3 linked regions of the Homo sapiens genome follow. The protein of the gene in region 3 interacts with the protein of the main gene of each other region in a pairwise test. Each region holds a gene or a part of one and is shown on either strand. Other genes may lie near its edges.

Region 1 (6,880 bases), on a different chromosome or scaffold from region 3:
AATTATTGTAACTGGTTCAATAGATTATTCTTAGGCTAACATATATGTGTAAATTCATTAAATTAATAATTGTTTGCAAGTTAATATCCAAAGTTATCTCATTGGGCTCCCTAGGTGATGATGTGCTAATTGCCCCTGGAGCTGGCCACTTGTATTTTTTTAAATAGAGGTAACTGGCAAATCTGGACACAGTTAAGCAATTATGCTAAGTAAGAGAGAGAATGCTGTCTGAAATTCTAGCCAACAATTATCCATTAATCATGTCCAATATTTTTTTTCTATGGATGGTAAAAAATAAACCGCCTAAACTCTCCCAATTTAAAAATATGAGTGGCATTTTGTTACATTCCGGCAAGGGGAATAATATCAGAAACTTCTTGGCTTCTCACAAAATAGTGTTTTTAATAAATCGATGGCGCCCTGGATCATGGTCTTTCAAAGGTCATGCTGGTCCAGGAAGATACTGGGAAGCTGAATCACAGGTCGGATGATATAACTGGGTAATAGGGATTCAGAGGAGCACCGGAAAATGGCACTTGTGCTTTGACTTTCTAAAGTGTTTGTAAAACGGCCTGTTTGACCCAGACAGAGCTTTACTATCACAGGAAAGTGCTTTTGGAGTCCCTGATGAGTGCAGCAACCTCACCCCAAACTTTTGAGCACATCTTGGCGCCCAGAGCAGCCATTCGCGACCTAAATTACTAAGTCAAGATTCAAGCTCTACAGCAGCAAAGGTCCTGTGAGGTACGCTTGGCTGGAAGAAAGCTAGGTATCTGGCTCTGCCCAGAAGGCGCCCGCTCCGCAAACTGCTGGGAAGTTCTGGTTTGTTCCAAGAGTAGCACCAAGGAGACAAAGGAACATGCAAAATAGGATAGCTTATGCTGGCTGCAAGAAGCTGCAGTCGGGTTTTTGCCCCTGGGCCCTCTGATAATCACCGCAGGGACTTGGGGCAGGAGCAGGCTATTGGAATGATGGCAGACGGTTTAAAATTCCTTACTTGCTGATCCCTGAGCAGTGGTCTTGTAGAGTCACCACAGCACTGGAGATTGGCAGCTAGCTCCACCACTAATGTGCTCTCTTAAATCTCGATTACTTGAGGCGGATAATGGAAGAATGAAGTTACCTACCTGATTTGTTATTGTTGCTGCTGTGAGGTTTAAGAGTTAACATGTAGCAACATGAGGATTAAGAGTTAACATGTAGCAAGATAGCAAGCTTAAAAAAAGAAAGAGAAAGACAGAAAGAATGAAAGAAAAGAAAGAAAGAAGGAAGAAAGAGAAAGAAGAGAAAGAAAGAAAGAAAGAAAGAAAGAAAGAAAGAAAGAAAGAAAGAAAGAAAGAAAGAAAGAAAGAGGTAGTGGTTATTGTTGGAGGCCTCACACCTGTGAGTGGTATCGCCCCAGAACTCTGTCAAAGTCTCCTGAATCTTGAGAAGCCAAGCCCTTGTTCTCTTCTATTGGGCTGCTTCCTCGGGTACGACTTTGTAGGAGCCACCAGGAATTAAGTGCACCTGCTAAGGTCATGAGACAAGATGAGCCTCTTTGGAATGCCAAAATTTGCCCCCAGCAGACCGCACTGCTGCGTCTACCCAGGCAGTATACATCTAGCCCTTCACATGTAATCATGTTGAATTGAGTTTTTGGCAACACTTGTCCCTGGCTAACTACCTGATTCTGCGGAGCGTCAGAGCCTGGTCTCTCAAAAGCCCTCTCCCCAAAGGCCAGAAGTGAAGTTTCCCCCGGCCGTCATGGCCCTGAAACGGAGCACTGCAGAGCTCACAGAGGGGAGTGGAGATGGGAAGAAAGACACTGTTTCCTGAGTTGCCTGGATAGGATTATTTATGACGTAGCCACAAGCCTCTTCTGCTACAGCAGGCGGAGACCTTGCCACCTCAGGATTATGCTGCCACTTGCACTTAGCCTTCTTCCCGCATATACACACCCAGCGACATAAAAAGGGCACTCCTGCCCTGAGTTTGGAAATGATGTTTTGTGATGAGAGTCTAGTCCTGGTGGCTCACTCCTCACTGTCTATTGCTCACCGGCACGGAAAACTCTCTTTCATTCATAAATAATTGCCTTGCGCATTACTGTAGAAGAAAACTTAGTTAACAAATTCCTTTGTTTTGCTTGTGAAGTTACCAGATTTGGTTAGTAATTGCCTGCTTGATCAAAAGCCATTTCCTTCGTGGTTAACCAAACATCAACTTGTCTCTGTTGGGCCCGTTTTAAATATCACCAAAAGTGAACAGCCCCAATTACGACAGGAAACACATTTCCCGACATTAAACAAGGAACAGAAACAGATTTGTCGTGTTTCAAAATGCACATAGTTCTATGGATGGGCTCACATGCTGTTCTTATTTGCAACCTTCTCTCCCTAAACAAACACACAGGAGCGCGAAGACACAAACACATTCTTCTTTCAGTGGGTGTAGAAGGATTCTTGGAAAATCCTGTCTCTGAGTTATCTTCAAAAATGGCTGAAACTTATTACTGTGACACTTTTTAACTTGAAAATCAAGATAAAGTAAAGGGGAAAGTCTAAAATAAAATAAAATACAATCACTATTTTACTTTTCTTGAAAGAAGGGAAAATATTTGCCAGGAAAAATACTTTAGAGAGACTGTAGTCCTCTTCAGACATTTAAAACTTTCACATGAGATAGTAAAATAAATTTAAAAATTAAAAAATAATCCCTTGAGTTTTTGTGTGGTTGACTGTGAGCTGCAAATCTCAGGAACACCGGAATGCATTTATAAACCCATCAGAAATATCACCGTCACTATTTGGCATTCAGTATTGATAAGAAATGCGTGGTCCTCCTTGGCCTCTGGTTTTTCAGGCAGGGTTATAACAGGCATTATCTGCTTCAGGGGTTTTATTTGGGAAATCCCCTGGGTCCTTCCTAGTTATCCATGGCACTGCGGTGTGGTAGCCCAATGCGGGGTAGCTGGGGTTTCCTGCATTACTTGAAAGGTATGGTGCTCTCTGCAATGGAGAAAATAAATTTAAAAGCTATAGAATTCGTCCAATTAAACCGCACTAATCCAGAATCTGTCTTCTCTTCTATGAGAGCCTCTTCACTAGAGGATAAAATGAGCATTGATTTTTCAAGTACCTATGGATCACTTATTGCTAGTAAATTCTTCTGACTTAGGGCCTTAAGCCCTTTTCGATTCTCTCTGAGCTGCCCTGGAGAAATAAACCAACAAGTAAAAATCAAACATGTTCTATTTTGCAGCAGAAAAATGTGTCAGCCAAGACATTTCTGGGATTCGCTGTGCATTAAATTGTGTGTGTGTGTGTGTGTATATGTGTGTGTGTTGGATCTTTCCTTTAGGAGGTGTAAAGTTTTGTTTATGTGGCGCTTGCAGACTGAGAGGGGGATCCTGGCCACTGAGAGTCTCTACACTGCCTGGGAATCACTGCCTGAGGCTGAATGGGTCTCTTAGTGGATGACTCCAGAGCTGAACCCCTTGAGTGGAGCTTCTGAGCTGCTGTTGTTGATTGAGGATTGAAAAGTGTTTTCCAACTGCAAGTGCTCCTGCTGGGCATGGAAATGAGCTGACTAGACTTGTAAAGTCAATCCACTCCTGCTTCAAAGGCATTTTTTCCCAAGTGCATTAGCCTGTAGCTCAGAGCAGGATGCAGCCAGGTATGGTTGCAACCGGGAGGCTGAGGTAGGATGCAGGGTGCCTGCAGCCTTGAGGCTCTGAAAGCTGAAATCACAGACTGTCATTGTGACTTCATGGCCAACCTTGAGTAACAGCAGGTCTTCTGTGGGAGAAGTTGCTGGAGTCCAACCCCGGAAGTAGCAAGTGCCTCTCCCACAGCTGAGGGCCAGAACACCACGTTCTCTTGTGCTCTGGCTCTAGGCCACTCTTCTCTGGGCTCTTGAGAAGAGCTGCTGCAGGCATTTGCAGAGTGAATGAGCTCTGACTGAGACTTGACTTCAGAACCACTGGGCTGGCCTGGCCTCTTGACACAGCAACACACTGCTTCTTGCCTTCCAGGTAAATACCTCTGCCTTACTGACCATGTTATGGGTTTTAGTGGGACATCAGTACAGGGATTCTCCTCAGCCTCTTCCTCTCCTGTTAACTATCACTAACCAAGTCCCTAACATTAGGAAAGTCCAACTGATAACTGTCAGTTTCATCTTTCATTAACTGGGGGTTTTGTGACAGAGATCTTGCAATCACTACTTCTCGGGGGACTGGAAGTAGAATATTAGTGCTCTTTAAAATTAATGAAGGCTAGACTTGTCCAGTCTGTTAAGAGTATGCTGTAATACCCAAAGAAGCCAGCAATAGTCCCTCTCCTAGGCAGCAATGCAGCCAGAAGGCTCCCAGGCCCAGGATACTATGCATTAGTGCTCACAGATCTTGTTTAGGGAGCTAGGGAGCAAGGGGAAGGGACGGGAGTGCCTCCTGGAAGGTGAGGACTGAAGCCAACGTGGAAGTCACTGAGCTGAGTGGCAGGTGTCTAACACTGAAAAGTGGCCCTAGCCAAGGGCTCTAAGTAGTGGTACTTTCTACCGAGGCTCTTCCCCAAGGAGCTCTAGATCCACAGAGGCAGAAGGATTATTTGATCTTCTTTGCACTCATTTGATTTCAGGAGGAGGTCTGAAGTCCCAAAGCATGGGCATTGGGGTGAGAGAGGGAACATCAAAGTGTGCCAAAAAAGATTGTTTTATTTTACTTATTCCTGATTTTTCTTACCAGAGCTTGAGCTCATACACCGCATTGTAACACAAACACACAAGCACACATACCACACACACACACATGCCTTCAAACTAGAGAAGGGGACTACAGAAAGCACCTGGCCATAAAAGGCATGTCAAGGAGTTTGCTGTAGGGTGGTGATATGGTTGCTTTGTTTCAGTTCAGCAGACTTATCTCCATGAAGACCTTATTGTTTTCTGTGATTTCTCTTTTGTATTTTTTAAAATTTGTCTTTATTTCTTAATTATTAAAACCTTCCCTTTTGCCCCTCGGAGCATTGATCAGGGTTTACTAACTACAAATATTTACTTCATGAAGGAGCAGTTTTTTCTCTAGTAATATTAATGTGGGGACCCTGGGAAGGAAGACAGTGTATGAAAGAAGGCATAGATTGGCTTCAAGCACAGGCAGTATAGGTGTTTGCCTATATTTGGTGTTTTGATAGACTTAGGGAAAATCCCTCAGCCTACTACCAAATATTTTTGAGTGTCAGTACATCTGTGGTTGTTAGGTATTGAAAAGCCCTGATTAAATACAGATAATTATGAGAATATGGAAAGAAGCCTTTAGTACCTTATTCGCATGTCCTAGGAATGATGAGGTAGGGTGCCAAGTTAAGAAGAGGAAAATATATTGTAAATATCCAGGAGTAAGTAAATAGTGAAAAGATTAGCACGAGATTTGGTGGGCCCAATGGAGTTCAGGATGATTTCTTTCTTAACAGAAGGATCTGCTTCTGTTGGGCTCATGGCTGCCCAAATTAGGCAGAGCCAGATGATGACTCACTGATCTGAGAACTGAGTGGAGTCATTTGGTGAGAAAGCGTGTGTAGGGGAAGAGGGTGTAAAGCAAGCATTTTTCTAGTTTTAGGAAGATAAAATAATTCCTCATAAACAGTATTTTTTTTCAATAATTCATTGATGCAATTAACTTGGCATATCTCCGTTCAAGTGATCTGAGCCAGTGATATTTTGCTATATGTCTGAATTATTTATTTTAAAATATCAAACTGGCACCTGCAGTCATTTTTCAAATCCTAGCCCACTTTCTTTGAGGCTGATGCATATAGCATATTTGGAGGTAACTCTGACTCTCATCCTCATTTTTAAAAAGGCAGCATGATGCCAGGTGCGGTGGCTCAAGCCTGTAATCCCAGCACTTTGGGAGGCTGAGGCAGGCAGATCACCTGAGGTCAGGAGTTCAAGACCAGCCTGGCCAACATGGTGAAACCCCGTCTCTACTAAAAATACAAAAATTAGTTGGGCGTGGTTGAACACGCCTGTAATCCCAGCTACTCAGGAGGCTGAGGCAGGAGAATCACCTGAAGCTGGGGGGCAGAGGTTGCAGTGAGCTGAGATTGTGCCATTGCACTCCAGCCTGGGCAACAGAGGGAGATTCTGTCTCAAAAAAAAAAAAAAAAAAAAGCATGAAAAAAAACAAAGAAAAGGAAAGAGGAAAGATGGGGGTGGAGTAGGTAAAAGAAATGTATAAGGCATAATACCCAAGTTAAAATGACCTAACCTAAAAATTCACATAGCACAAACTCTACCCATGAAAAAATATTATGTCCAGCAGTCCTGATTGAGCCTTCAGTTAATATATGACTGTGCAAGTGCCAATGGAGCACCAGAGAGGTAACATAAAAAGGAATAGGTTTGACACTAGTTTGGTGTTGTTTTTGTGTGTGTGTGTGTGTGTGTGTGTGTGTGTGTGTGTTTTCTTTAATTTTGTTCATTAGGTTTTGTAGAGACAGGATCTTGCTATGTTGCCCAGGATGATCTCGAACTCCTGGACTCAAGCTATCCTTTTCCCTCAGCCTCCCAAAGCACTGAGATTACAAGTGTGAGCCCATATACCTGGCCTTAAGCTCAATGTTTTAATGGAGAGTGTTTGAGGACTAAAAGAGACAGGATGCATTTATAATTATTTATTATTTTCACTGCTCCAGGAAGTCAAAGACAGCTGAAAGGTGACCATACAATGCCTCTTCTGGCAATTACTAGAATCACCATAGGGTAGAATTACATTTGGACTTTCAAAAAGGTTTTTTCTTTTTCGTTTATTCATTTATCCTGCTCAAAATTAGCCACGTACAAAATTGTCCCCATAATTCTGGTGGCAAATTTCCTAGGAAATTTTTAAAAATTCTAT
Region 2 (7,029 bases), on a different chromosome or scaffold from region 3:
GATACACTTTCTAGGACACTATGAATTAGGACAATGGACTGAAAAATAAGCAGAAAATTTAAACACACCAGTGACCACAGTGCAACTGCAACTGACGATCAGTTTCCACCAAACTGCAACAGAGAGAGTGGCTTTGCCGGTGAGTTCTGTCAAACTACTGTGTTATTTAAACATTATTTGGCCTTACAACTAAGGTGAGGCCCTTGGGCCTCTACTGAAGGCCCAATGTGTTCAACAAGGGCTCTCCATGCTGCCTAAGGGAACACATCTGATTTGCAGCCCTGAATGAACTCTGGGACTCATTCATCATGCATGTACTTTCCTCAGAAGTTGCTCTTACCCAGCCTTGCGGGGCTGCAGCCAGATCTCCCACGAGTGGTAATGTAACATGAAAACAATGAGCCACATCTTCAAAATTCCAAAGGAAAATGACCCTCAACCTAGAGTTTCCTATCTAGGCAAGTATTAATCAAGTGTAAGGGCAGAATAATGACACTTCCAGATGAGAGGTATACAAATTTACCTTACCTGCACCCATTTACAAGAAGCTAGTGAAGGTTGTGCTCTTTAAAACATGATGGAATTTACCAAGAAAGAGGAGGACTTGGCTTAGGAAAGAGAAGATCCAGTAGAGAAGGGGAGTGACAGGAATCTGCAGGAAATGATGAAGGGCAATCCCAGGATGTTAGCTGCACACCAGAGATGAGGAGACAGACTAGGACCCCTGCTCCATTAGACCTCCAGGTCCCAAACACCAGGTGAGCCAGGGCCTTGGCCTGTCTTGCCCATGGCTGATGAAGTGTTGTACTCTCTATCAAACCCTGCAGTCTGGGCCAGCTGAGGACTCTCCTTGGAACCCAAAGAAGCAGTTTGTTTCCACCTACTCCCAAGAGCTGAAGGTAAGCTTTGGTGATCTTAGAATAGGAAAATCTGGGCAGCCCGTTCTCTTGGCCCTAGCTCTCTTGGGCCTGCCCAGAAGAGCTCTGCCAGATGCCATGGATCTGAGGGTTTTTCTATCTCCCAGGATGATTCAGGACCTCACCCACTGATTGGGCCCTTGTATATTCAAGGGAGCTGAAGCTGGGGTCCTTTTTCTGGAAGTCTTTATTCAAAAGTGGTAATATTGCCCTTTGCTCAGCTGGATTTGAATAATTTGCTACTCAGTTTTTCAAAGCTGAATATATTATTTAAGGATACTATTATGAAATGAATGTTTGTATTCCTTCCTCCCAAATTTCATATGTTGAAGCCGTAACCCCCAGTATGGCTATATTTGGAGACTGGGTCTTTAAGGAAGTAATTAAGGTTAAATGAGATCACAAGGTTGGGGCCTTCATGACGGAATTAGTGTCCTTATAAAAAGAAACACTGGAGCACTGGTGCTCTCTCCCCGACTCTCCTCGTGCGAGCACTAAGGAAACGCCACATGAAGACATAGTGAGAAGCGGGACATCTAAAGCCAGGAAGAGGGCCTTAACTGAAGCCAAATGCCTAGAACCTTGATCTCGGACTTCCTAGCCTCCAGAACCATGAGAAAATAAATAAGTGTTGTTTAAACCGGCAGTCTGTGGTATTTTCTTATGGCAGCCCAAGCAGACGAATGTAGCTACATATAAAGACAGGGAGCTGTGAGGGAAAGCAAGGGAATGACTGGCCTAAAACCCAAGACGGTGGTGGTTTCTGGTGGGCAGGGCGAGGGGATATGATTGTGAAGGGCCCAAGGGTGTTCCAAGGAGTACTCATCCACTGTTTCTTAAGCAGGCTACTGGGTACATAGGTGTTCCTTTCATTATAATTCTGGAAACGGTTTTATGTTTTTTTTTTAATTTTTTGAGACAGAGTCTCACTCTGTCACCCAGGTTGGAGTGCAGTGGCACGATCTTGGCTCACTGCAACCTCTGCCTCCTGGGTCCAAGCGATTTTCCTGCCTCAGCCTCCTGAGTAGCTGGGATTACAGGCACATACCGCCATGTGCGGTTAAGTTTTGTATTTTTTAGTAGAGATAGGGTTTCACCATGTTGGCCAGGCTGGTCTCAAACTCTTGACCTCAGGTGATCTGCCTGCCTTGGCCTCCCAAAGTGCTGGGATTACAGGTGCGAGCTGCCATGCCCAGCTGTTTTATGTGTGCTTTATATACACATATAGTAATTCACAATTTTAAAGAAATCAGATAAGATAGACTTTAAAGAGTTAAAATTACCTTCATATTTTCTCTTAGAATCCTCTTGCTTTGGTAGTTTATTCACACAGTGAGGAATTTCATGATTTATTTCAGTTGATTTTTCTTTATGATCGATGTTTCCTGTTGCCTTTTTACCCTGTAATTTAGAAAAGCAGCAAAAACACATTTTGGGGGGTCTAGATAACTTAAAATTGCATTTTATTCTAATGACTACAAATACTTTTCACATAGAACAAGTGACTGTAGCCTATTTTTGTTAAGACATGTTTAATCAGACACTGCAAGATTCCAAATTTGCTGTACCTTAGTTGTCAAAGGTGGAACATCTGATTTTTGGGTTCCCTGGTGTCTCATACTTGTGAATGGCAAAATTTTTCTGTCTGCTTGGACTGATTTTGTTGAAGAAACTATGGAACAGGTAGATTATATGTAAGAAACATATTTTACATTTGGATACAATATTGATTTTAAACATAAAATAACTTTTATGCAATGTAATAATAAAGTATACTAAGTATTTTCTAAATATTCAATATATATATAAGCATTTGTTAGTTTCCTGTTTTTCCCTCCAGGGCCCTTGCTTTGTCTTACTTTGGGCCTCACAGTGTTTGAGTATAAAACAAGTAGGTGTTAGGATAAGACATTGTTGCTGTTGGAGGACAAGGCTGTCCTTTGTGGATGGGATTCAGCAAGGTAGACGTGTAATTGTGAGAGGCCAGGCCACCGAGCTATCCTGTGGCGGAGCTCTTGATTATCAGTGGTTAGACTGTCCATGCTGAAGCGCATGACCACTAAATCTAGACTGCACTTTCCTGAAAAGTGAAGGAAATTATATCATTTAAACAACCCCTCGGTTGATTCATTGTCTCTATTATTCTAGATTATAAGCCAGAAGCAAACAAAGGCAGGCAAGGAAATTTGAGGTTGTTGCATCTGGAAGTAAACATGTAGCTACTTCTTCTAATAAAACAGAGGTGAGTATTCCTATGGTACTTCTGAGTCGAATCTGTTGCTGGGAGATTTTGGGGGGAAAGCAGTGCACGTGCTCTTGAAGAAAAGAAGACCTCACCAATGAGAGGTATACACTAATGATAGTGGCATCAATATAGATGAATCTCAAAAACACTATGCTGAACAAAAGCAGCCAGATACAAAAGGGTGCAGCTGTGGGATTCCACTTACATGAAATTCTAGAACAGACAACCTAGGCTATTGTGACCAAAGGAAAGTCAGTGGTTGCCTCGGGTGAGGTAGGGGACTACTGACTGCAGGGGACACGAGGAAACTTCCTGGGGAGGTGGAAATATTCAATATCTTGATTGGGGTGGTGGCTCCATCGGTATAAACATCTGTCAAAACCCACTGAGCTGCGTGCACACTTAAAATGGATGCATTTTATTGAGGTCAAGTATACCCCAATAAAGTTCATTTTGAAAAGCCATACACTGGCTAACAGATACACTTAGAAAGTTCACTTTTTGGCAGACATTTTGCTTCAAGCTGAAGTTATCCTTTTGCTCCACCTGAAGAAAGGACATAAAGGGGTGTGCTGAGGATGGGAGAACGGGAAAGCATTTCTATTCCTTGCTAGCCATGTCACCATCTCAGTCTCGTTATTCTTCTAGAATCACAAAATGTATTTTAATGCCTAATGAAGTGATTTTTGAAAATATCCATTATTTTGTCTATATAAATTAGGAAAATCTGACTAGATACTTAAAAATAGATTTTGAGCAAAAGTAATTAAAACATACCTTTTGGATAGTCCTCTGTGTCATGTAAATTTTTAAGTATTCGATGACTATAGATGTTTTTAATTTCAAGCTCACGATCCTTTTCCTAAAAAGAACCACAAAACCAATTTTTCTATAAATGCTTGCTTTTGTCAACCCTGATTTCTTTTAAAAACAATTTAAATGAGCTCAGTATCCTATGAATAAAATCTGTAGATTTTAGAAGAAACAGAAATAGGCCATATCATCCTATACCATTCCTGACATCGAAAAGTACTAGCTCTTTAAACAAAGTGACACATTATTGTGATCGGGACAGTATTTTTGAAGAGCCTTGCAGGTCAGCTTGTCCACTGTTTTCCTTCTGTCCTGTGGGCCTTGAAGTTTATGAAATATTCTTCTGTACTGTGCATTACAGTAGCCACTAACTATATGTTGTGATTTCATTTAAATGAAAGTAAAACTAAAATTTAGGTCGTCAGCCACACTATTTGTATTTCCAATAGGCGGTCAGCAGCTGTGTGTGACTAGTGACTACAGTATTGGATGGCACAGGTGAACATTTCCACCATCTAATAGAAAGTTCTATGAGACAGGGCTACGTCTAGACAAGGGCCGGGGGGGAAGCCTAGAACAAGGGTATCATTGTTCCATTTTAAATTTCATATTGATTTTTTTGAGTCTTGGCAAAACAGACATTTTGAAACCTTAACTTGTTGAGGAACAAAGAAAGGGTTTTTATTAAATATCAAATGCTCCTTCTTACATGTACACCAGGAGGCAAGAAAGGCTTTGGACTCAAGACCATTGAATTTTAGTAACAACCATGGTTAAGAGAGGTGGGCATATATGAAGTAAGGAGGAAGGAACCCAGGGATGTCAGAGTGTGACAGACGTGCATGTGCACACACACACACACACACGGGGGGTGGGGCGGGGAGAGAGAGCTCTTGTCTCCTTGTGCCCCTTAGGGTCAAATCTATGGGCCAAGGGATATTCAGGGGGTGAGAAACATCTCTGAGGTTTGGGAAAGTCTCAGTGCAAGAGGCCTTGGCGTGGTCCAGGAAAATTGCAAGCCCCTTAAAAAGCGCCTCCCCCGCCGCCCCATTCATCATGGAGCTAAAGTAACATGGTATTGCCCAAGTGTAAGTTAGAAAGGGCTAAATACCCTCTCTAGGCCAGAGATTGTGCTTCCCTTACCCTTGCAACCAGTGGGACCTGTGGAGGGAGCTGCACCTGCCCTGGAGTCCTTAAGGTTACAGATCCAGGTGCTCCCATAGCACAGGCTTTGCAACAGAGAATCTAGCCAGGGATCAGATGGAGGATGCATCTCAGAGCATTTGCATCAACAGTCAGCAGGGGACAATCACCAGGATTTATTTGACCAGACTGAGAAGAGGCCAGGAGTTTTAGCAGCCACATTCAGTACACATCAGACAGGGTCCTGGGAATTTGATTTAAGACTAGTCACTCGTCAGGAGAACCAGCTCTAGAGAGGGGCCAGAGGGCAGAACACAGACCAGAGGCCTCTTTTTCACTCCACCAAGAGTACACATATGTTTTCTCTCATGCCCAGGATGCCATCTCCACTGAGACAGAAGATAGGGATGAGGAAAAAGTCTGCAAGTCTAAGAGACAACCTAGCATAAGACTGTTTTGAGTTAGAAGAGACTGAGACAAGCTTTTATCCATTTCTTCTTGTCCAACTGCCATCCTCATCCCTAATTTGTGGGACTGGGGCTCATAAGGAAGTATGGCTTAGTTACAGAAAATAAAGAACATGACATATTTTTGTACCTGAATTGTACAGTGTAAATTTTCTACTCATTTGAATCATAAAATTAGTTTATTATCAGAGGTACACAAAGGGATAAAACATGAGAATATTAATCTTTTCTAGAATTTAAGTTTCTGGAGGCAAAAATGTTAACAGTTCATCTCTCTTTTCTTATTGTGGTAACAGCCAAAAGAACAGTAAATGCTGACAGTTCATCACCATGAAAAGTTGATCAGGTGTATTCTGGATAATAGCTTTCAGATGAAGGATACTGTGTAAAACATTTTAGAATGAGTTTTCATCCACACTGGTTAGGAAACATTTTCATGTTTACAGGGACACATTTTGATTACCTGAAAAATTCAGTTCTATCTTTTGATTTGGTCTGGACACCTGGAGGTCAGCAACCGAGAGCAGGAAGGAGGCACAGCAACAACAGAACAACAACAAGAGGCTGCGACAGGGGCGGCGTGGGTCAAAAGGAAGCAACCTGGAGGACGGTCCTCCTTGCGGCTTGGAGCAGAGCTTCAGGTTGGGCACCACGACAGAGCTGGGCCAGAAGTCTAACACAGCCTGTTTGGAACACAACCCGGGATACTTGTGTGGTTGGGTTCAGTCAGTCAAGGGAAACAAGAAGCTAACCCGTGGCTGGGAGTGTTCATGCAATGCTCGTGGAATACTCAGCGCAAAGCCTGCCCGCAAGCACAAAGGGTATCAAGGAAGAGTTAAATGGGAAGTTGGGTCATGGTGTGGAATCATATTAAGGTCAGCATTGATGGCTTCCGGAACTTAGATAGAAAGCAGTGTCTTAATGCAGGAGTGTGACCGTAGCCTGGGTGTAAGACGGGTGGCAGTACCTCACGTGGGAGCTGTGGAAGGCTGACATCCCTCTTCTTACTTCGGCTCATACTGCAGAAGTGGGCCTAGAACTCGGTGTGGGATGACTTTGAAAATGAGTTTCAAAGTAAAGAAACGAACTTTTGACCTTTGGGACCAGACTCTTCCAAGCTCAAACTATGACTTTCGTTAATGTGGCAGACTGTATTTTCCTAGAATTCCCACGACAAGATTTCTAGTCCTATATGCTCTTCAACAACCTCGTGACTCGCTACCAAAAGGTGGAGTTCACTGCTTGAACTGCCTAGGACTGCCCTGACAAATGCTGTGAGGCAGAAGTGATGCTGCGTGACTGCCAAGGCTAGGTCATAAAAGGCAGTACTGCATCTGTCTGGTTCTCTCCCTCTCTCTCTCTCTCTCTCTCTCTCTCTCTGTGTGTGTGTGTGTGTGTGTGTGTGTGTGTGTGTGTCTGTGCATATTTTACTTTGTGATTGTCT
Region 3 (7,304 bases):
ATTTACATACTGCACCTAGGAAGAACAGCTTGTTGGTCTCCTTTATAAAAGTTGAGTAGCTAGAAGCCTCATTCAGTGTCTCCCATCCAAATGACTGAAAGAAGATGCAATTGAAATAGTGGAGTCTCTCGTCTGGCTTGGGCAGCATAAATGCTGTGCATAAAACACTTGGAGTAGTTCAGGCACAAGACAAACCCACCTGAATGGACGAGGAACACTGTCTGTTGCCATGGCAGCCTGATCTAATTACATGAGTGATCAGGACTGGAGTAAGTGCACCGAAAACCTACACCACTGACAGGCAGCCAGGAGGTTCAGGGGAGCCCTTCAACCTCTGCTTTATGTAGAAGATGGCATTCAAGTCCATTTATTTGCGGAGCTGCTAAAATATTGACTGATGCATGCACAGTGAGAGGGCAATCAGAGGAGATTAAATGCCACAGCGCTAGCCGTTATGGTGCAATCCCTTTCCAAGAGTTCCTGTGCAGGATTTTCTCTTCTCTCTGGTGGTTTCCTCAGACATAAGCTTCACTCCAAAAAAAGCTCAAGTATCAAACTACCTTTACCCATCAAATAAACCGAAGGGTGGGCTTAAGGGGGGCTTCTAGGAACTGCAGCCTCCTAAAAAACCCAAACAGAAATGTCTCAGCTAACACTGTTGAAAAAGTAACTAGCTGTGCCTAAAAATAACCAAGTAACTACCCACTGCTGTGTGCAATATATAACAATGATGTTTAAATATTAAAAACAGCCTGCATTATAAAACACAAATGTCATTGAGATGTGACTACTAGATTGCCAAAGGAGAACTTATTTGCATACACACATTCCCGTGCATGCACGACAGGATGTGCAGGGAGAAAGCCACTGTAAGGCATTAGTTTTTATTCTGTGGGTGTAATAGGGTCTTCTAATTTTGCTAATTGTATCCTGTGGATCTCGCAGGGAAGCTAAGAATCTCTTCGGGGACAGAACCAGTTTGGAGGAGTCCCTACTGCACAGCATACGGTAAACAAAATAAAAATAGCTTGCCTTTCTTGTTAGCCACATCGCGCATTATATAACCAGCTTCTTCCGACTGTTTTTTTTTTTTTTTTTTTTTTTTTTTTGCCCTTACTACTCTTCAGCAATTTCCCTCTTCTCAAATATTTATATTACCCTTTTATCTGTAGGATTATATACCAAGAAAGCAAAACAAAACAGAGCAGCCACGGGCTCGAACCGAATCCCCGCCGTCCTTAGAAACGGATTTTTTTTTGTTTTGTTTTGTTTTCTGGCAGAGTCTCGATCACCACCCTACTTCCACCCCCACTAAGGTTCTTGCTCAATCTCCCTAGAAAACCTGAATTGTTTCATCCCTTTCAGTCAGCCCCCTACGTGGTCTGAAACAAAATGAAAGCACAAGCCACGGAGTTTAAGAAGGCAGCCTGAAGGCGGGGGGCTGAAGAGGGGTCGGGGCGCTGCAGAGTCAGCCAAGTAGCCAAGGAAGGGCCCCCTCCGCGTCGCGACGGCCCTCGCCCCCCGCCCGGCGCGCGCGCGCACAAATACACACACACAGTCACTCACACACTCACTCACACTCACGCCGCGCTCCGACACCGCCTCACCTCTCGCTCCGCCCGTCCGGCCCCCTTCCCTGCCCCCTGCGGGACCGGCCTGCGCGCAGCACTGGAACCACGTAGGAGGAGGCGGCGGCGCCCCCGGGAGTGGCAGAGTCTCCGGCCCGGCCCAGAGTGAACGAGCAGTGGGGCTCCAGGGCGCATCCCAATCCCCGCAGCGCCTCCTCCGCGGCGGCCGCCGCCTCCTCCTCCTTCCCCTCCTCCTGGCTTCATTCACCCTCCCAGCAGCCGCGCAGCCGTTCACTCCCGGCTCAGGGCAGCGCCTGCCGCGGCTCCTCGTCTCCTGCCGCGGGTGCTGGCGGGGGCGCCGGCCCGGACTGGGGCGCTCGCGGGCTCCCGGCTCCGGGCGGCGGCTGCCGCTGCACATGATCAGGAAGCGGCCGCACCAACAGGGCGGCGGTGGCGGCGGCGGCCAGGGCCGTCACCGCCACTCCAGCCGCGCTCCAGGCACCCGCACACCCGCTACCCCCGCGCGGTCCCCGAGGCCACCCCTCTGCGCCCCCCGCCCGGCACCCGGCCGCGCGCAAAGTCCCGTCCCGGCTGCAGGAGCAGTCCCTTCCCCGCCCGCAGCCGCACACCCGGCGAGGCCGGCCCTCCGAGGGGAGACCCCCGCCCCAGGGCGCCGAGGCCGGGCGACCACCCGCGGAGAAGTCCAGCCCTCCGTGAGACCCCCTCTCTCTCACCGCCCTCTCCGGGGAGGAGGAATGGGAAGAGGGCGGCCGGGAAAGGGACCACCCCCCAACCCCAGCCGCCGCCTCCCCCCTGCGCCACCCGGAGGGAGGAGGACATGGCTCTCCGCACTTGCGACCGGACCAGCAGCCGGGGGAGCGGGGCGCCGCCGCCGCTCTCCCCGCCCGCGCCCCCCGCCCGGGCGCGCCCCCTAGCCCGGCGGGCGCCCACCCAGCCCCTGACAGCCCCCCCGCCGGCCGCCCCTGCGCCCAGAGTGGGGGTGTCGGCCCGGGAGCCTGGAGCCGGGGACGGTTGTATGTACACACATACACACACACACACACACACACGCACACACACAGAACACGACGCGTCGATTTCCTTCGCTCCTCTTCCAGCTGTTTTCCGTGCAGCCGATTGGGGTTTTGGGTTTGTTTGCTGGTTGTTGCTTTTGCCCCTCTCGGGAGATCGGGGGAGGAGGGATTTTAATCTAAATAAGGGGAGAAGGGAATGGGGGAGGGGGGAAAGAATCGGAGGAGGAAAAAAAAATAGTCACTTACTGTAAAGTGTAAATGGATCTGGGGTTGCGTGGGGAAGGGGGGGCAGAGGGAGAGAAACAATGTCTTGCGGCTGCTGTTGCTCTGGCTGCTGCTCCACGGGGCTTGTTTTGGATCCCCCTGCAGTGAAACAGGTCCTGTACGGCTCCGCCACTGTAGTAGAAATGATGTCTGCGGTATACTCTGCTCTCTCCTCCTCCTCCTCCTCCTCCTCCTCCCCCTCCTCCCGCTCCCCTCCCCTCCCTCCTCCCTCCGCCCGCCCGCCCTCCCTCCCTCCCTCGCGCTCTCTCGCGCTCGCTCGCTCGCTCGCTCCAGTATGTAAATGTGTAATAGAAGCCAAATATGGAGCAGTTGGCTGCCGCCGCCGCAGCTCAAGGATCCGACTTCATGGGGGTGGGGGGCACCCTCTGGCGGGCGGCCCGGCGAGCCGCACAGAGCACGGCGAGCGCACCGCGCGGCGGCCGGCCCGCGCCCTTAACCCTTCGCTGCGCGCCGCCCGGGGAGGCGGGCACCTTTCCCAAAGAGTGGCTCGGGATGGGGTGCGGGGGAGGGGAGACGCGGACCGGAGGGCAAGGTTCCTTCCAGGTTTGGGAAGGGGGCGGGGAGCTGGGCGATGAGGTAATTTGAGCGGTGACGGGTCGGTCCTCGCGCGCCTCCCTGGGTCCCTGCACCTAGTTGGAGGGGACTGAACGACAACGGGGCGCTACTCAGGCAACCTGGGGGACTCCCCCAAGGGCTGTCAGGCTTCAGCTGGGAGCCGATGCAACACCCCAGCGGGGAGGGGAGGTCGGCCCATTCTAATCCCGACGTGTCCTTGGTCCCAGGCGCTCGGAGCAGCATCTGAGAGGGCTCACTCTGATCATCAGCTGCACGTTAAGCCACAAACCGGCGTCGCTTCGGCGTTCCGGAACCCAGGCCTGGGGGCCGCGGGGATTGCCTCTGCGTGCAACTCCGGAAAGTTTCAAGGGGTCCCCCGACTGCACAGGTACCCTCACCTTTCCTGCCGGCGAACGCTGGCGACCGCCCGACCCTGCCCTCTTTCTCTCTTCGCACGCAGGTCCGGAAATCGGCTTTGATATGGAACTACTCCGCTCTAGCCTGGAAAGGAGACCCGCGCACTCCTCTCGCAGCTAATTTCGGATCATTAATTTAATCGGAAATGAGGTAACCAGTGTAGGAGACAGAGAAAGCAACCGGAGCATCAAATGGCAGTTCTCGAGAATCGACGAGGAACTTAAATCTGGACTCAGGGTTTCAGTGCGGTCTCCGACTCCCACCACCCCGCCCCTCCGCCTGTCTCGCCGCCAGGTGTGACCTCCACGCGAAGGAATCTTCTTCGGATGGGTGCACCTTGCCAACAGGTGTGGCACCTGGAGGACTAGGAGGCGCCTCCAGACTAAGGGCGCTCAGTGCGGCGTTCTTGTTGCAGATGATTCTGGAAGGCCGGTAGGTGTCGGGCGACATTTGACCTTCTTCAGGTGCTTAGAACTAAGTGTCTGGAAACATGATCCTTTCGCGTAAGTTTCTTTCTGAAAGCCACCAATCTTGACTGTAAGCTGTATTTGAGAGATCTTTTGGCTGAGTTTACTTATGACCTAACGGTTAGTCACCAACTGAGGCAGGGCACAGGATGACCAAAAAAAAAGTGTCAGTTTTTACACAACTCTGGCCTGCAAGAGCCTACGTGCTTCATAAATAAAAATAAACATACGAGCGAGGAAGGTGCAGAGCCCCGGAAATATTTTTTTCTCACATTTTTGAAATACCATGCACATATATGTGGCTATTTAAGTATAACTACTAGTGTTCACTCTTACTCATTTCTACAACTTTTTTTTTTCCATTTAAAAATCGATTATTGTTACGGTTTAAACCTCGGGTTGGTCTAAAGTGACATTGTTGGTCTCATTACAGCCTCTAGTGGACAGTTAACATCAGTTTCCTGAAAAGGCTCTGACTGGTTTTGTTTTCGTTGACAAGCTTTGTCAAGGTGAAGGTTAGTACGTAAGAGCATAACCGGGTAAAATGTCCCCTCACCCCTATCCTCACCCCCGCCCCCAACACCCTGCTTGGCAAAGACGACTTCAGAAAGGAGCAGAAGCTTGTTGGCTTTATATAGAAAAGACGTATGCTTTGTGCTGCAGGTATTATTATTACTGGACTGTGAATAAACAGAAAGCTTCTGCTATTCATTTCAGTTTCAGACAGCTTTCATAAAAACTAAATTCATCTCAAATATTTTTATAACAGAAAATATTGGTTGCCATGTTTTTGGCTTAACTGCGATGTTTTTATTCCAACTCATAATCTGCAAACTGTCCAATCCACCTCCACTCTATTTTTAGACATCTTACATTTAGATAATTTTCAGTTAAAAAAAAGCTAATATTGTAATTTTACGTTGGCACAAGCAGTTAATTTACGTGATTTTAACAACCTTAAATTAAAACACATAATTCAGATTACAGTTAGTCAATTAATTTAAATGTTCTCTCAAGGAAGCTAAATATGTATATTACCCAAATGGTAAAAACAATTAATAAGAAATGTGTCATTTACTTTCTTAGCCATTAAGTTTAAAGCCATAAACTGCCACCAAAATCTGTAACTATTTCTTCCTGCAAGATCCAACATAAACACCATACTCATGAAACTGTCTCATTACCTTTAGTACTGAAATATTTTGTTTTCAGATGGCAAAATATTAAGTGTACAATCACAAATAACAGGCACTGATTCTTTAGAAACAAGACTTTCTCGTGCAAATAAAAACTCAATGAAAAAGGGCAGAGCTTCCAAGAAGCTAGTAGACAAATATATAGTACTATAGTCCTACTCATAAGGCTGGTGTTATGTTTGTAAAAGCATAAGTCAACCTTTGAAATTACAGGAAATCGATAAATAAGGCCTGATGAGCTTGACTCGTATCCTGTGTCATAGATTGCTTAAATACCATGAAAAATAATTGTAATCACATATCTATTTTACTGTTTTGGTGGTATCTACTCTTGAAGGTGTTAAATGGGCCAGCAAGTATATATTATATAATTACATATTACACCCTTACTTAAAGTGTAGTTTTCAAAGTCGCCACAGCAGCACTTGGGAGCTTTTTAGACATTCAGAGTCAAGGGTTCTACCCCAGACATACCAAATCAGAATCTGCCTTTGAACCAGGCCCCTGGGTGATTTCTAAACACATTATCATGTGAAGAACACTGGTCTATACCACAGGGATCAACCTAAATAAATTTGGGCACAAGTGCAGAAGTTAATTCCTCTATTTATTTCTTTTTTGCTCCTTTTTAGTAAGTACAGCCCTTATTAATTTGTGCTTTTCAATGAAAAATTATTATGTTATATGCTTTGGATAAATACTACTGCACTGTAAGTGCACACATCTGCATCATTATTGCCAAAAAAGAATGCTCTGCTGAGGAATGTACTGGGGTCTTGAACATGAACATTTTCTTCATGGCAGCAGAGGGAGCACAAGAGTGCTTAATAAAACCAGTGCACAGGTCTCTCCAAATCATGACAGATTTTACATTGTAGTATATGTTTTCATTGGAAGTAGCCTGTTATGTAGTTCAAAATGAAGCAAATCAACTGAGCAAACACAGATAGGCTTACCAGGTCATAACAACTATGTAACTGAACAGATTGAAAGTTGAATAAAATAAAGATAAACTTCTTTAGAGTTTTAGGCTTGAATTCTTAAAAGAAAGTGGACCTCAAAAGTGAAAAAGATGCCTTAGCTTTGCTCAAAAACAAAGATAACACAACACAGAATCAGGCAACCCTAAGATGCCTTAGCTTTACTCAAAAACAAAGATAACACAGAATCAGGCAACCCTAATAGTAGCTCCTGTTTATCTAAAAACAGAGTCAGTTCACTGGACCCTACATCAGGTAACTTAATTTCATTTGGTGTCATACATGTTGGTTAAGGTCCATGCGCCTTTTGCTGTGTTTACACTCAGAATAATTTTAGGGGTTTCTCCTTAATGCTTGCAGTGGTGAGGATTTAGGTTTCAGTTATACCTACGTAGTATTTCATACTTTTCACTACTCTTCCATATTGCATCCTCAAAAACTCCCTTGAAGCAGATAACATACTTGGTAAAAGCCAAGTATCCAAAAAGTTATGGAACCACATCGTGCTTTCATAACATTGAGTCATTTAATTGTTTCAGTAGTGCTTTGAGGTATTCATAAATGAGGGAAATTATACAGACTAAAGATCCAGAGCATTTTTTACAGTTTTAAAGGTTTTTCAAAGTTATTCTTAGATAATATGTTTATATATTTATTATTTATTTACAAGCAGTCACTTACTCTGCATCTACAATAACTAAGACTTGAGAATATAAAATTGAGTAAGACATCTTAGTGTGCAAGGAGATCAGAGCAGAACAGATCTTACCTTTGGAAAACTGTTAATTTTTACCACGTTGAA

The links.
Region 1: the proteins of ATXN1 (region 3) and TBX22 interact in binary tests that used the Homo sapiens proteins (3 or more experiments, as listed by UniProt).
Region 2: the proteins of ATXN1 (region 3) and LCA5L interact in binary tests that used the Homo sapiens proteins (3 or more experiments, as listed by UniProt).

Annotation. Positions count from the first base shown.
Region 1 is NC_000023.11:80,010,873-80,017,752, forward strand, and holds the start of TBX22 (T-box transcription factor TBX22), read left to right. Parts: upstream 1-3,880; 5' UTR 3,881-4,015; intron 4,016-6,880. UniProt on the Homo sapiens protein: Probable transcriptional regulator involved in developmental processes. This is major determinant crucial to palatogenesis.
Region 2 is NC_000021.9:39,407,779-39,414,807, forward strand, and holds part of LCA5L (lebercilin-like protein), read right to left. Parts: intron 6,269-7,029; coding exon of another isoform or gene 6,026-6,268; exon of another isoform or gene 5,746-6,025; intron 4,025-5,745; coding exon 3,940-4,024; intron 3,160-3,939; exon of another isoform or gene 3,066-3,159; intron 2,590-3,065; coding exon 2,486-2,589; intron 2,319-2,485; coding exon 2,201-2,318; intron 900-2,200; exon of another isoform or gene 828-899; intron 140-827; exon of another isoform or gene 15-139; intron 1-14.
Region 3 is NC_000006.12:16,758,450-16,765,753, forward strand, and holds the start of ATXN1 (ataxin-1), read right to left. Parts: upstream 3,012-7,304; 5' UTR 2,849-3,011; intron 2,718-2,848; exon of another isoform or gene 2,689-2,717; intron 1,736-2,688; exon of another isoform or gene 1,608-1,735; intron 1-1,607. UniProt on the Homo sapiens protein: Chromatin-binding factor that repress Notch signaling in the absence of Notch intracellular domain by acting as a CBF1 corepressor. Binds to the HEY promoter and might assist, along with NCOR2, RBPJ-mediated repression. Binds RNA in vitro.